Regions from separate parts of the Homo sapiens genome. Here region 2 is linked to region 1. Evidence: fine-mapped expression QTL. Tissue or cell type: whole blood. Region 1 holds a variant in brackets; the other region holds the start of a gene. All regions are shown on one strand. Distances are between the middles of the regions.

Region 1 (8,104 bases):
ACCTGATGAAAAACCTTCACAAAACCTGGTCTCTTTCCAACAGCTTAGCTATGTGAGAATAGCTTTTATAACATGACAACTCTAAAAATAAAACCATTTTAAAGTTAAAGCTGTCCTTCCAGTTGCTGTTTCAAACTTTATCCCAAGAACTGAGGTGTCGTTCAGTAAAAGGCAACTACAGCCTTCTCAGGAGTAAGGCTAAGTACTTGTTTTATGTTTTCTGGTGATGAAGTTATTTCTTGTCTTTGAGTTTACAGTGACAGCTATAAAAGTGATTGTCAATAGTATTAGTATAATTTAATTTCTAATAGAATGTGTTTTCCATGTATGTTTTAGTCAGAGCTATGATTTTCTTAATAATACCAGAACTTGTTTTGTGCTCTGTGATGATGATATTAGTGATCTGTACTCTCAGCAGTATTTTACAGTACTTCAGACTATTAATACACTAATCTGTGTTTTTGGCTGGGTGCTGTGGCTCATGCCTGTAATTCCAGCACTTTCGGAGGCTGAGACTGGTGGATCACTCAAGCTCAGAAGTTCGAGACAAGCCTGAGCAACATTGTGAAACCCCCTCTTTACTAAAAATACAAAAATTAGTTGGGCGTGGTGGTGGGCACCTGTAATCCCATCTACTTGGGAGGCTGAGACAGGAGAATTGTTTGAACCCAGGAGGCGGAGGTTGCAGTGAGCTGAGATCACACCATTGCACTGCAGCCTGGGCAAAAAGACGGAAACTCCATCTCAAAGGAAAAAAAAAAGAGTAAATAGTAAGATCGGGCATGGTGGCTCATGCCTGTAATCCTAGCACTTTGGGAGGCTGAGGCAGGTGGATCACCTGAGGTCGGGAGTTCTAGACCAGCCTGACCAACATGGAGAAACCCCGTCTCTACTAAAAGTAGAAAATTAGCCAGGCTACGTGGTGCATGCCTGTAATCCCAGCTGCTAGGGAGGATGAGGTAGGAGAATCGCTTGAACCCGGGAGGTGGAGGTTGCAGTAAGCCATGATCACTCCATTGCACTCCACCCTGGGCAACAAGAGCGAAACTATGTCTCAAAATAAAATAAAATAAAATGAAGAGTGCATAGTATTCCTTTATGTGTGTGTGTGTATGTATGTGTGTATGTGTGTGTATATATATATATATATATATATATATATATATATATATATCACATTTTCTTTATCCTTTCATCCTATGCTGGCCTCCAAGGTTGCTTTCATATCTTAGCTATTATGGATAATGCTGCAGTGAATATGGTAGTGCAGTTATCTCTTCAGTATGCTGATTTCAATTCCTTTAGCTATACACACATAGGTGGGATTGCTGGAACATACAGTAATTCTATTTTTAATTTCTGATGAATCTCCATGTTATTTTCCTTAATGGCTCTATTAATTTACGTTGGGAAATAAATTCCTTTTTTTTTTTTTTGAGATGGAGTCTTGCTCTGTTGCCCAGGCTGGAGTGCAGTGGTGTGATCTAGGCTCACTGCAAGATCCACCTCCTGGGTTCACACCATTCTCCTGCCTCAGCATACCGAGTAGCTGGGACTACAGGTGCCCACCACCTGCCTGGCTAATGTTTTTTGTATTTTTAGTAGAATGATGTTGGGAATGGACTGGTTTATTCAATAAATCGTGTTACGTACATTGACTAATAGTGTGTAGGATTGAAGTTATATTTACTGAATTCTTTACATTAAGGTATAGTCAAAACAGACTGAATAATTAAATGTAAAAATGATCTGGAGAAAACCTTCTCGTTGTGTTTTGTTTTGTTTTTTTGAGATGGAGTCTCACTCTGTCATCCAGGCTGGAGTGTAGTGGGGCGATTTTGACTGACTGCAACCTCAGTTTCCCAGGTTCAAGTGATACTCCTGCCTCAGCCTCCCAAGTAGCTGGGATTATAGGCATGTGCCACCACACTCAAATAATTGTATATATTTTAAAATAGGAATAGATTTTCTAAGCTAAACTGAAGATAAATGCTAAGGAAAGAGTGAGATTTGACTTGATAATTATGTGTCTGAATGAATTAGCCAATTAATAAAATGAAAACAGGCCAGGGGCAGTGGTGCATGCCTGTAATCTGAGCACTTTGGGAGGCTGAGGCGGGTGGATCACTTGACGTCAGGAGTTCAAGACCAACCTGACAAACATGGTGAAACCCCATCTCTACTAAATACAAAAAAGTAGCTTGTTGTGGTGGCACATACCTTTAATCCCAGCTACTTGGGAGGCTGAGGCAGGAGAATCACTTGAACCTGGGAGGTGGAGGTTGCAATGAGCCGCGATTGCGCCATTGCACTGCAGCCTGGGCAACAAGAGCAAAACTCTGTCTCAAAAAAAAAAAAAAAAAAAAAAAAAATCACTGCCCCACCAACTTTTTCACATAGAATGATTAAGGATTCCAGAGCCCATGCTACCTCTAGGGGCTCCTACCCCTCCCACACTACACATATATCTTGACAGGGCTAGTTACAGAGAAGAAAAGGCCCAGTAAATTAATATCACAATCATTGCCACATACCCACCAAAAACTCAAATTAAAATTTTGACAAAATTAAGTATCAAGAAGAATGCGAAGATTTGGGAATTATCAGACATTGTAAGACTGTCAGTTGGTGTGTTAACATTGGGATGAAACCAATAATAGCTAATAAAATGGAAGATATGTTTACGCTGTAACCTATGGTTTCACCTCTTGTTTTATACTGTTCACTATACACACTATACACACCAATGGTAACCAAATATAAATACACAAATGTTCACAACAGCATCATTTGTAACTGACAAAAATGAACACAACCCACATGTCTACCAACAATGAAGGGATACACACTGGTGTACTGTATTTTTATTTTTATTTTTATTTTTGAGATGGGGTCTTGCTCAGGCCCCCAGGTTGGAGTGCAGGGTGCGATCTCGGCTCACTGCAATCTCTGCCTCCCAGGTTCAAGTAATTCTCCTGTCTCAGCCTCCCGAGTAGCTTGTCTTACTGATGGGTGCTGCCACTCCCAGCAAATTTTTGTATTATTGGTAGAGACAGGGTTTCACCTTGTTGGTAAGGCTGGTCTCAAACTCCCTACCTGAGGTAATCCACCTGTCTCCACCTCCCAAAGTGCTGGGATTACAGGTGGGAGCCACCACGCCCGGCCTTTTTTTTTTTTTTTTTTTGAGACTGAGTCTCACTCTGTTGTCCAGGTTGGAGTACAGGGTGCAATCTTGGCTCACTGCAACCTCCACCACCTCCCAAGTTCAACTGATTCTCCTGCCTCAGCCTCCCGAGTAATTGGGATTACAGGCACCCACCACCATGCCTGGCCTTTTTTTTTTTTTTTTTTTTTAACAGAGTCTAGTTCTGT[C/T]GACCAGGCTGGAGTGCAGTGGTGCAAACTCGGCTCACTGCAACCTCCACCTCCCAGAGTGATTCTTCAGCCTCAGCCTCCCGAGTAGCTGGGACTACAGGCACATGCCACCACGCCCAGCTAATTTTTTGTATTTTTAGTAGAGATTTGGTTTCACCGTGTTCACCAGGATGGTCTCGATCTCCTGACCTCACGATCTGCCTGCCTCGGCCTCTCAAAGTGCTGAGATGACAGGCATTAGCCACTGCATGGCCTACTTTTTGTAGTTTTAGTAGAGATGGGGTTTCACCATGTTGGCTAGGGTGGTCTGGAACTCCTGAACTCAAGTGATCTGCCTGCCTCAGCCTCCCAAAGTGCTGGGATTATAGACATGAGCCATCGTGACTGGCTGTACTGTTTTAATAGAATGCAGAAACAATGCTAAGTGTGAATATTAAATACTTAATATTGGGTAAAAGGAGCCAGAGGCAGCAGGATACAGACTTTACTCCAATTATGTAAGAGAAAAATCAGGCAAAACCAGACTTGACTTTAGGCTTCTAAAAAATGCATAATAAGGCCAGGCACTGAGGTCAGGAGTTCGAGACCAGCCTGACCAACATGTAAAACCCCGTCTCTACTAAAAATACAAAAATTAGCCAGGCATGATGGCAGATAGCCCATGCCTGTAATCCCAGCTATTAGGGAGGTTGAGGCATGAGAATCACTTGAATCCAGGAGTTGGAGGTTGCAATGAGTCAAGATCATGCCACTACACTCCAGCCTGGGTGACAGAGCAAGTCTCCATCTCTAAAAAAGAAAAAAAAAGAAAAAGAAAAGAAAGAAAAAAATACATAATAAAAAGAGAACCTAGGAGAGAAATGCAGATATCCACAGGTAATGTGGTTATCTGTTATATCTGTTACTAATAAGGGATGGAAGACTTTAGGATCATTTAGGGGCATACAGAGGACTTCTTGGTGGTGATAGTGCTCTATTTCTTCACCTGGATAGGTATCACACAGATGTTTATTTAATAACTGATGGATCCATATGTTTGTTTGCATATTTCACAATAAGAATGAAATAGAGGAAAGGAAGGTGAATGGAAAGAGATTTCTCCATTCATCAAAATTTTAAAGTCATGTTTTTCCTCAGGTTCTTCTCCAAGTTCAGTCTGAAATGGTGAAAGCAGCCAAGTGCGGTGGCTCACGCCTATAATCTCAGCACTTTTGGGAGGTAACAGAGTGAGACTCTGCCTAAAAAAAAAAAAAAAAAAAGAACAACAGAGTAGTTATCAGGTAGAGAGGAAGGGAGGAAATAAAGACATGTGGGTCAGAGATACACAGTAGCAGATATGTAGGATGAACGATCCTATACATCTATATACAACATGAGGACTATAGGTAATAAAATTGTACTGTATATGGGATTCATGCTAAATAAGATTTTACCTTCCCTTGCCACACCAAAAAATGTGCGTATCTGTGATAGATATGGTAATTTGCTTCACTATAGTAATGAATTTTTACTATCTATATGTATTCTATAACATCATATGTGAACCTTAAATATACACAATAAAATTTATTTTAAAGAGAAAAAAATGGCCAGGTGTGGTAGTTCATGCTGGTAATCCCAAAACTTTGGGAGGCTGAGGTGGGTGGATCACGAGGTCAGGAGTTTGAGATCAGCCTGTCCAACACGGTGAAACCCCGTCTCCACTAAAAACACACACAAAAAATTAGCCGGGTGTGGTGGCACACACTGTAATCTTAGCTACTCAGGTAGTTGAATTGCTTGAACATAGGAGGCAGATGTTGCAGTGAGATGAGATCTCACCATTGCACTCCAGCCTGGGTGACAGACCGAGACTCCACCTCAAAAAAGAATGTATATATATATATATGTAGAGAGAGAGAGAGAGAGAGAGAGAGAGAGAGAGAAAATTTATGAAAGTATGCACAACAAAATTAAAATGTTGACTCTAAAGTGAGCTACTGAGTGACTGGGGTGCATGAGAGAAAAGGTTACTTAACATTTTTATACCTATTGAATTGTATCCTATGTATGCATTATAAATTTAAATGTGCAATAATGCAGATAACTGAAATGTGGGTATGCTTTGATTAGGACTTTGCATTTCCCATTTGCTCAAATTCCTTATGATTCTAGATGCATATGAATAGAAATACAAAATGTAAGGAGACACGGGACTTCTGATAGCCCTTTCTTCTTTCCACATTTTGTGTCTCTGGCTGTAGTTTGCCATATGAGTCCATATGGCTAATGAGCAAAATATTTTTCAGATGGATACATGTGACCAAGCATTGCAAGTTAAAGATATTTCTGAATCTTGGACCTCTTATTTACAGTGAAGCCCCCTCATGCATAGTAAAGCAGAGAGGAATGTAAAAGGTTGCTGCATGGATAATCAATTTCTGGTGAGCAATAATTATAGGCAATGTAAAATGAGACAATTATTGCTTTTCATCATATCTTGAAAGAACTCTTACAGTCCATGATTTTGAAAAAAAAATCTAAGTTCACTCTTTTCTTTTCTATAAAAAAAGACATTATCCAGTAGAAGTTCAAGAGTAAAATCTGAAGGCAGCTTATCTGACCTAGCCACATGGTCTTGCCACTTGTTAAATATAACTTTCTACACACTAACTTCTCCAGACCTCAGATCTTCAACTCTCTAAAATGGAAACCTAGTAGTATTTGCCTCTAGAACTGCAGCTGAACTGAGCATTTTAGGGAAGGAACAAACATACACACGATATATATATATATAGTCAGATTATGAACCCAGTGTAGCCCAGAATGCAAAAATTTCTCAGTAACAGAGATCCCCAAGAGAAAAATGTGATTTAGCCTATCTCAGTGGCCTTTCATGTGGCAAATGAAAAGTTAAAGTCCATAATGAGAAATATATGGGCAGCCAGTGACACCATCCATTCAATGTAGACTCTCAACATCTCTGACAATCATTCCCTGTTGTACTCCAACCTGCTTATATATTGGGGTGATATCACCTTTTGATCATAACATACATAAACCTCAAGCTTCAGTAAGAAATATTTATGAACAATCAGATATTCTGTGTTTCCAGTCAAAACTCAGGTAGATCACATTTTATGTGACAGGAGAAGGCACAGTTGATGCCCAGTTAACTGTGAGATCATCTCTGCCTGCAGCTTCCTATCATCATAGCAAGCTCTTTCCCTGCAGTTCACCATCTGTATCTGCCCTTTGCTATATAGATAGCAAAAATAAGCATCTAAAAAGATGCTCAACACCATATGTCACTAGGGAATTCAAATTAAAACAATGATGAGATACCATTACACATCTATTAGACTGGCTCACATCCAAACACTGAGACTACCAAATGCTGATGAGGATATGGAACAACAGGAACTCTCATTGATTGCTGCTGGGAATGCAAAATTGTAAAGCCACTGTGGAAGGCAGTTTTGCAAATTCCTTCAAAACTAAACATACGCTTACCATATGATCTGGCAATTGTATTCCTTGGTATATGCTCAAATGACTTGAAAACTTATATCCACTCAAATTCTGTATATGAATGTTTATAGCAGCTTATACGTAACCAACAAAGATTGGAAGTAACCAGGATATCGTACAATAAGGAAATGGATAAACTAATTGTGAAACATTCATACAATGGAATATTCTTCAGGAATAAAAATAAATGTACTACCAAGGCATGACAAGACATGGAGGAATCTTAAACATGTATTTCTAAGTGAAAGAAGCCAATGCAAAAAGCCACATAGTGTAGAGTTCCAATTATATGGAATACTAAAAAAGACAAAACTAAGCAGATGGCATTATATAAAGTTCAGTGGTTGCCAGAGGCTTCAGCAGAGGGAAGGATGAATAGGTGGAACACAGAAGATTTTTAGGGCAGTGAAACTTTTCTGTGTGACCCTATAATGGTGGATATATTGCTTAAGCATCTGTCAAAGCCCATAAATGGTAGAACACAAAGAGTGAATCTTAATATAAGCCATGAACTTAATAATATCAATGTTGGCTCATCAAGCATAACAAATGTACCGCACTAACAAGATGATAATAGAGGAAGTGTGTGTACTGTGTTGTGAGGCAGATATTAGAGCTCAATATGCCTTCTGCTCTATTTTTCTGTACACCTACAACTGTTCTAAAAATTAAGTCAATTATTTATTTGTTAATTATTATTTTTAAATTTATTTTTCGAGATGGAGTCTCACTCTGTTGCCCAAGCTGGAGTGCAACAGCATGATCTTGGCTTACTGCAACCTCTGCCTCCCGGGTTCAAGCGATTCTGCTGCCTCAGCCTCCTGAATAGCTGGAATTACAGGCACCCACCACCATACCCAGCTAATTTTTTGTATTTTTAGTAGAGACGGGGTTTCACCGTGTTAGCCAGGATGGTCTTAATCTGCTGACCTCTTGATCCACCCACCTTGCCCTCCCAAAGTGCTTAGATTACTGGCATGAGCCATTGCACCAGGTCTTATTTATCTTTTTGAGACAGGTTTTAGCTCTGTCACTCAGGCTGGAGTGCAGTGGTGCAATGATGGCTCAATGCAGCACCAACCTCCAGGGCTCAAGTAACCCTCCCACCTCAGCTTCCTGAGTAGCTGGGACCACAAGCGTGTGTCACCATACCTGACACATTTCTTAGACCTCAGAAAAGATGCTCAACACCATAAGTCACTAGGAATATTCAGTATTCAAA
Region 2 (8,104 bases), 900 kb before region 1:
AGTTGTTTATCCGACCTTCTAAGAAACAAGGAGAGTGAAAGATAGCTAAATCTCCAAACAAGCTGGCATGATAAGGGAGCTCCTTCCACTTTCACCTTTACAACAAAAGTAGCTTTGAAATAACCAGTCCACTTTTTGTTCTCCATGTCTGCATCCTTCAGCCCCTTCTGTCTATAAAACCATCCTCCTCTGTTCAGCTCATCAAACATTCCTTCTGTTTTATGGAATGGGGTGTTTCCCAATTCTATAATCACGAATAAAGTGAAGTAAGGTCTTTAAACTAAATTTGTCCTAATTTTGCCCTTTGACATGAGTCATCCCCATCGGGCCCTGTCCAAAGTCCTGACTCACAGACTCTGCGAGGAATATAAAATTGTTGTTATCTTGTGTCACTAAACTTAGGGGTGGTTTGATGTACATCAATAGTAACTAGGACAGAATTCAGTTACATACGGCCCTTGTTTTACAGATGAGGAAACATGCAAAGTACAGTACAGGGAAAGCAAGAAATCAACCCGAGTCATGATTCTAAAGACACCTGGAGCCACGAAACTGTGTTGCGCCATCCACAGCCCATCATTTGCTTGCTGTTTGTTTAATAGGGCCAAGGCCAGGACACTAATCCCAATTCTGTTTTAGAAGTGCCTTCATCTGCCCTGGTTTGAGGCGTACAGGCCAGTGGTTCTCAAGCCCGAGTGTCCTCTGGAGCATCTGAAGGGCTCGTTATAAACACAGGTGTCAGGTCCCATCCCAGGGTTTCTGATTCCAGATGTCCAGGATGGGCTCCAGAATTTGTATTTCTCAAAAGTTCTCAGGTAATGCTGATGCTGCAGGTCTGAAGACCATGCGTTGAGAACCACTGGTATTCTTGAGGGGGTGAGGTGAAGCTTTCTTCAAGAGTGATATTCCTTTGGAACAAGCCATCTGACTTTATCACACACAGCTGACAGATCAGACCAAAGTGTTCTCATCCATCCCACGACTTTCTAGATGCTCCCAGAAGAGTCATGGCCTGGCCTGGCCCTTTTTCATACTGTCTTCTCTATGGTTTGCAGACACCGGCAAAGGAAAGAGATATTGCTGACCCATGAACAGGAGGGCACGCACATCCCAGGGGAGAAAGCTGCTGAAAAGCTGTTTTTCAAGTTAGTTTTCTGAAGCTCAATTTCTGGCTAACGTAGCCATAAAGGCCATATTATCAGAAGAAATAAGTGAAGGAAAAGGAGACAGAAGAATGCTTGCTGACCACACCCTGATCCTGACCGAGCGAGGTTCAGAAGGTCCTTGCTGTTGGCCCCAGGAGGTCCGCCCCACTGTCTTATCTGAGTGGGGCTGCAAGTGTGCACAGGCCAACTGTGAATGTTCCCCATGACCTTGGCCTCACAAGTCCAGAGCAGGTCACTTTCCACCTCTGTCCTTGGGCAAGCTGCTCTAGTCTCCTTCAAGGGCACATTGCCCCAACTCTGCAAACCAAAGGGTTTGGTTTTTTTCCCACTAGTTCAAGGGCACTTGCTGCTGACTCAATGTTAAAGAAAACACTTATCTAGTAAGTGACTCATTTTAATTAAACCAGCAAAGTAATATACAATTTCGGGGAGTGGGGGAGGTCCAAAGTTCCTTCCAATTTCTTTGAAAAATAACTGCAAGACACTATCTATAATTGTATGACTATTTCTGAAGTTATCTAAAATCGCTACTGCTTATGGGTCACCAGTAAGCGCTGGGTCTGCTGCACACCTTGCAGCACTCAGCCTAACCTCTGAGCATGACTGCCCCCATCCTCACAATGAGGAGACTGAGGGCTGGGGGGGCAGAACAACAAGGACAACTGAGGGAGGAGTTGGAGAAAATGGGGCCCTGGTGACCCTGCCATAAAGACCCGCAGGTCCTTTCTTAAACACTCCCAAATCCAGCAAGCTGGTTATGACCACCCTTCTGGTCTGCATCCCTCTGATCAACACCGTGTCTGCCAGCCCCTCCCCGCAGGCCCCACACCCAGGCCCACCCTGCATCCGGAGCCCACCTCGCACTTGGCACCCACCCTGCGTGGCCAGCCCTGCCTGCAGTTCAGGGCCTCCCCCTCGGTGCCCAGTCAGCGCCTTAGGTGGGGGCGAGGGTGCTGTGTACGACCCCCAGCCCCAAATCTTAGCAGAGCAGCAGGGCCTCTGCTCAGCAAGTTCCAAACAACTGACCACCAGTCAACTGTTTGGGGCCGACGTCAGACCCCGCGGGTCCAAAGCAGGCCCCAGGTCGCTGGGGTGCAGTTCTCTGAGGCCGAGAACGAGAACGGGGAGGCCGCCGTTACTTCCTTCCCGTCCACAGGCCCCAGGCCCCAGGCCCGCAGCGAAGAAATAACTGGTTCCAGCTGCCACGCCGAGTTTCCTCCTCCCCAGGTCGCCCGCCACAGCTCTGTTTGTTTACGTGGGCAGGGCTTGTCCCCAGGCTGATCCCCGGGCACCGCAGCCCGCAGTGACAACCGCCACCGCTTTGTTTTTCCCTCCACCCCGGTATGGGAACGGGAAAGTCCCGACTCCGGGGCGCTCGGGTGTAGCCCGCGGCTCCCCGCCGGCTCTTGCTCAGCGGCGCTATGCACCCGGTAACGCAACTCTGGAGTCCGCCGAGCGAGGAGCCGCGCCGAGCAAGGCCAGCAGCGGGGCGTCCCAAGCGGCCGCCGGGTCCCCGCGGGCGCCGGCCCGAGCTGGGCACGTGGATCTGGGGCCCGATGGGATGAGGGACGGGGTGACGTGGAGCCACTGCTTAGAGCGGGCGGGGCGGACGGAATACCGGAGGAGGGGCCCCTGCAGGGCTGCGATCCGCGCTGCCCGGGGACGGCTGCCGCTGGCGAGAGGCTCCGAGTCCCCTCGGGACCCAAGAGTTGGGGGCGTCCTGGGTCTCCCGAAGCCCACTCACCAGAGACATTTAACTGGCCTCCCAGGAACCAGCCGATCTTGCCAGTGCTGAAGTCGCAGTCCCAGACGGTGTGGTAGGGGGTGTCCCACACGAGAGTGTCCCGCGCCAGAGGCCCCCAGAAGGCGGCCGGCTCCCGGGCTGCCTGTGCACTCAGCGCGGGATACGAGCCTGGCTGTGCTGCTGCTGCTGCAACTGCGGGAGCGCTGCCCGAGGGTCCCGAGGCCGCCCTGCGCGGCGCGCTCACCCCGCACGGCGGCCGCGCGGGCTGCCCCGAGAGCCCTCGCAGGCTGCCCAGCAGCCTCCCGACGCCGCGGCCCAGGGTGCGCGCCGCCATCTAGGCAGGCTACCTGAGCTCTCTGTGCTCCCAGAGTGGGTGCCTCACGCCCGGGGCGCCCCGTGGAGTCTCCGCGGGCCCCGCCCCTGCTCCGCCCTTCCGCCACCATCCATTCCTCCAGGGCCCCCTCCCGGAGCCCGCCCGGGTCCCACCCCTTCTTCTGCTGCCCGGGAGAGGGGGGGCCGCTTAGGAAGAGGGGAGCAGCGTGGGGAAGGGGTGCAGGGGAGCGCGGGGCGGAGCAGGGTCCCAGGCCCTGGCCCAGGCGCTGCGCTCCGGTGAGTCTGCGGTCCCACCCGGATGTTCCTCGAGTCGGCCTGTTTTGGTTTCAGTTTGCACGCTCTCCTGCAAGCCCCGACAGCTTCTTCGAGCTGCCAGAGGCACGTGCGGCCCAGGACCCCAGGACGCAGGCTCAGGGCCTGGGGCGAGGGGACCCTCTGGGATGGGGAGGAGCCGGGAGGGAGCCGGCACCAACGTTAAGGGGGCTGGTGCACCCAAGCGCACTGGTGGGTCCCAAGACAATAGGTCGGTCAGTTCCGCATCTCAGAGGCTGAAGCCAAGGTTTTCATGCCTTTGTGCGCCCCTGAGAGTGAACCCCACCCCTGGAGTCTCAGCAGCACGCGAAAGGGGCTGGCGCCTTTCTAGGCTCCCGCCTAGAAGCCAGGAGGCTGCGCAAGCCTGAGTCCGTGTTCTGGGTCCCATGCTCCAGCCCCCCAGCTGCCGGCCTCCGTCCTGGCGGGGGTCACGTCCTGCTGGGGGTCGGTGGTGGGTGATATGGGGCGATGAGGACTTTCTCCAGTTGCTGCAGCATCTGTAGCCTGAGTTCAAACTCTGTGACCTTGAGCAAGTTCCTTAACTTCTCGGTGCCTCGTTTTCCTTTTGGGGAAGACGGAAGTAATGTCTCCCTGGGGGGCGGGGACGGCGGGGGTGGGCAGCTGCAGTAAGGAATACATTGGACAATGTCTGTCAAGCGTCTACCCTTGCGTGGCCCCATAGTAAGCTCAGTAGTGGGGATGATGTTTTTGCAGCTGTGGAGCCAGGAAGGACAGAAGGAAACGTATAAAACTGGTCTCCACCGAGTTCTTAAATATTCTGACACCCAAGAAGTAAATTCATAACAAACGGGTAAACACAGGGAAGAGAGATTTTGGAAAACTGGTTTATTGAGTTCTCTGTGATGGGAAAGTTTCTTTCCCTTGAGCTGTAGGGCTTGCAGAGGGGAGGAGCCTGCCATTGGAGGAGCCTCTGCGTGGGCTAGCCACCAGCCCCTGCTGGGGAATGCTGCTGTCTGCCAGAGAAGACAGGAGTGTACCTAGAGCTGGAGAATCAGTGACATCTACTAGCATAACACATGCCCTGCACAGTGCTAGCGCTTGACCTGCATTTTCTCCTTTATTTATTTATGATACTTTTTTAGAGATAGGGCCTGTAGCCCAGGCTGGAGTGCAATGGTTCCCATCACAGCTCACTACAGCCTGGAACTCCTGAGCTCAAGCGATCCTCCTGACTCGGCCTCCTGAGTATCTGGAACTACAAGCGTGTGCCACGGCACCCGACTAGTCTACTTAATTTGAAACTTATCTAGTGCTGTCCATTCCCACCAACTGTCAAACTCCAGGTGGAAAAAATGAGGAAACTGAGCCCAAATAAATAAAAGGACTTACTAAAGAGCATGCAGCTGGCTAAGGGAAGAGCAAGACTAACACCCAGTGCCCCCAGTGGGGAGCTCGTTGGCCTAAGTTCATTTGAATAGAATATTAAAGACACCCAGTACAGGGCACTGAGAGGCAGAGGTCAGTGAGTAGTAAAATTGTAAACTGAGAAAGCTCCTAACTGTGGCAGGGGGTCCCAAAGACGGCCACCAACTCTTCCTTCCCACGCCTGCACCGCCTGCACATGATGGTGTGCTGCTCTGTCCAGAGGAGGACCCTGGCTGGCTGGATTGCTTTGGCCAGTACAGCCTGGTGGGAGGGATGCTGTGACAGTTCCATGTGGAGGTCCTGAGAGACCCCGTAGCCCCAGCTTATCCTCCCATGGAACCCAGCTGCGAGCTGTGAGGAAGCGGGGCTGGCCTTCCAGAGGAAGGGACCCAGGGCGAGGATGAAGCTGTCCCATCCACAGCCAGGACCAACTCCCAGACAAGAATGACGCCAATGTGGAGGCTCCTGTCCCAGCCAAGGCAGCCTCATGAGTCACCCCAGATAACACCTGGGATGCAAAGGAACCTCCCAGTCCACTTACAGAATTGTAGAAGGAATAAATTTAAGCCACTAAATTTTGGGATGGTTTGTAACTCAGCAGTGGTAACTGATACAACAACTGAGGCTGAAAAATGCATGGTTCTTTCACTCACTGACTATTGCCTCTCAGTGCCCTGTACTGGGTGCCTTTCTTCTCTCTGCCTTCCAAGTGTTGAAGTGCCCAGGAGCTCAGCCCTCAAATCCCCCTTTCTCCCCTGCCCCCTAGGAAACAGCAGCCAGCTCTCTAGCCTCTCACTTTCATATTGACACCTCCCGCCTGGACCTTTCCTCCACATCTCAGTCCTGTATTCAAATGTCTCATTCACATCTGAAACATACCAAGTCCTGGGATTCTTCCCCACAACACGGATCTTCCATGTCAGTGAATGGAAATGGCATTTTCCTGTTGTTTGGGCTCATACCCTTGTCATCCTAGATTCCTCCCCCTCACACTCCACATGCAGCCTGTCAGCAAATCCTGTGACTCACCTTCAGAACACCTGCAGCACTAACCTCTTCCCCCATCACCATCCCCTCCTGCTACCATCCTAACCATACCTATCTCTTTTAGGATTATTCAGTAGGCTTCAAATTGCTTTCACCCTTGCCCCTGACAGCCTAACCAGCAGCCAGTGCAATTCCTTTAAAACAAGAGTCAGAGGAACTTGCTCTGGAGCTTGGAACAATCCAAAGGCTCCCCAGTCTCCTCAAAACAAAGACCACATCATTCCCTGGCCCACAGGCCATAGCCTCACTACTTAACGTGTGGTCCATGGGCCAGCAGCATCACTTGGATACTTTGTAGAAATGCAGAATGCCAGGCTCCATCTCAGACCTGCTGCCTCAGAATCTGCATCTTAAGCCCCAGGGGAGCTGCATGCACATTCACGTTAGAGAAGCGTTGCCCTCCCTGATCCAGTGTACCCTCTTCCTCTGCTCTCACTCATTGGGGCTCCAGCACATCAGCCTCCTCCTGTCCTTCCCATCACCCAGCAGGCTCCCACCTCAGGACTGCCACACGATGTCCCTTCTGCCTGGAATGCTCCACCCAGTTGTCCACAGAGACTCCCCCTCACCTCCTTCAGGTGTCTTCAAACATCCCTTCATCCAAGAGCCCTTTCTTCCCTGTCACCTACATAAAGTTATACCTCCGCCCTCATTCCCTAGTCTCAACCCCTGACTTGACTTTTCTCCATGGCTGTTACTTATTAGCTCTGTGTTTATCTTCCTAGTCCTCCTACCAGGAGGGAGCCCTGTGAGAGAAGAGACCAGCTATGCTGCTTGTGACTGGGCCTGGCACCAACAGCCACCCCATGGAGAGTGCACGGCAATGGCTCCTTCTTCCTACTACCTTCGTTTCTAAGGTCTTCTACAGTTGCAATGAGAAAAGTAGGTAGAACTAACTCTGTTTTAAAATAAATGCTACCTCGTTCCTTCTGGTTGGATAAGAAGAAGTGATCATTTCAGAACCAAACATGTCAGAACCAACCAGGTGGTGCAGAACTGCACTTCTTGCTGCCCGAGTTACCTAGAGGTGGCCTTGAGACCTTCCTTCTGAGTGTCACAGCCCAGGCCAAGGTCGTCCCCACTGCCTCCCTCCTGGCAGCCAGTCATCAACTCTTGCAGAACAAGCACAAGATTGAACAAGCACAAGGAGCACCCACTCTTGGCCCTGCATCCCGAAGGACCCTCAGAGGTTTGGACAGGGCAGCAGGCTATCTGGGCAGTGCTGGTCACATCTTCTCCCTAAGAAGCCGCTGGCCTCAACTTCAGGAGAGCTCACTTGGAACGCTGGATGCTGTCAGGCAGGGGCTGCAGACACACGAAGTGCTTAGAGGGCAGGGTTCTTGGGAATCCGGGATTCGCTTCTGTCTCGGTACTAATGTTTAGGCCAGAAATGCCAACACAGCTGTGACTACTGACCCTACAACCTGCAGCAGTGAATGCTCTTGCCCTTGCTGTACATGTGTGAAAATAAGCAGGAGGACAGAAGCTCACCCGAGGCCACCAGCTAGTAGGTAGCAGAGCCATAGCGTCCAGAGCATCTTAATTTAACAGCTTTAGGGACAGAGCCCACCAACACGGCCTTCGCCATTTGCCTTCATAGCTCCTGCCATGCCCATTACTCCAGAGTCGCAGTGCTCAGATGCTCAAGAAACAGTCCTGGCTGATAACGGATCCCCAACCACTCCCTGTGCACTCAGTGGTCTCCAAAGAGCTGGTAAAACCCTCCCTTCCTCTTCTCTCCTCCATCTCTCCCTCTTCCTGTTCTCTTCATTTGTCTCTGTGACCCCACACACACACACCTCTTTCCAATGACACTCAGAAGAAACCTGTGAGCTTCTCCCATGTGCACCACCAAGAGCTGAGGGCTCTCAGTTGGACAAGGACGGTCCAGTTTTGGTCCCTGCAAGCAAGCAGGTCACAGTTCAAATTGGGGAGAGACAGACACTGTTCAAATAGCTGAAATGCACAGTAAAACCAAAACACAGAATTTAGAAGAGCATGGCAGAGCTCAGATCAAGTACAGGACCCAGATGCTGGGAGTCTGGAATTGGCTTCGTCACCAGTTCACTGAGTTCTTTCTCTACTCTGCATCAGCTACAAAGAAAGATCACCAGAT

The links. PIP is the estimated chance that this variant, and not a neighbour inherited with it, causes the effect.
Region 2: it holds the start of ACSS1, and the variant in region 1 is fine-mapped to the expression of ACSS1 in whole blood (TOPMed, PIP 0.98).

What each region holds. Positions count from the first base shown.
Region 1 is chr20:25,957,402-25,965,505 of GRCh38, forward strand. It overlaps LINC01733 (long intergenic non-protein coding RNA 1733), which reads left to right. Exons shown (of 4, transcript NR_110003.1): 3 at 5,661-5,795; 4 at 7,602-8,104. Among named protein-coding and RNA genes, the nearest start is that of LINC01733, 5.6 kb to the left of the region's middle. The variant C/T (reference allele first, on the strand shown) is at 3,373.
Region 2 is chr20:25,054,859-25,062,962 of GRCh38, forward strand. It overlaps ACSS1 (acyl-CoA synthetase short chain family member 1), which reads right to left and starts at 3,281. Exons shown (of 14, transcript NM_032501.4): 1 at 2,911-3,281. The coding sequence starts at 3,244. LOC124904882 (a long non-coding RNA gene) reads right to left here. Exons shown (of 2, transcript XR_007067555.1): 2 at 8,104. RefSeq lists enhancers at 2,377-2,506, 3,157-3,762 and silencers at 2,607-2,876, 3,007-3,536.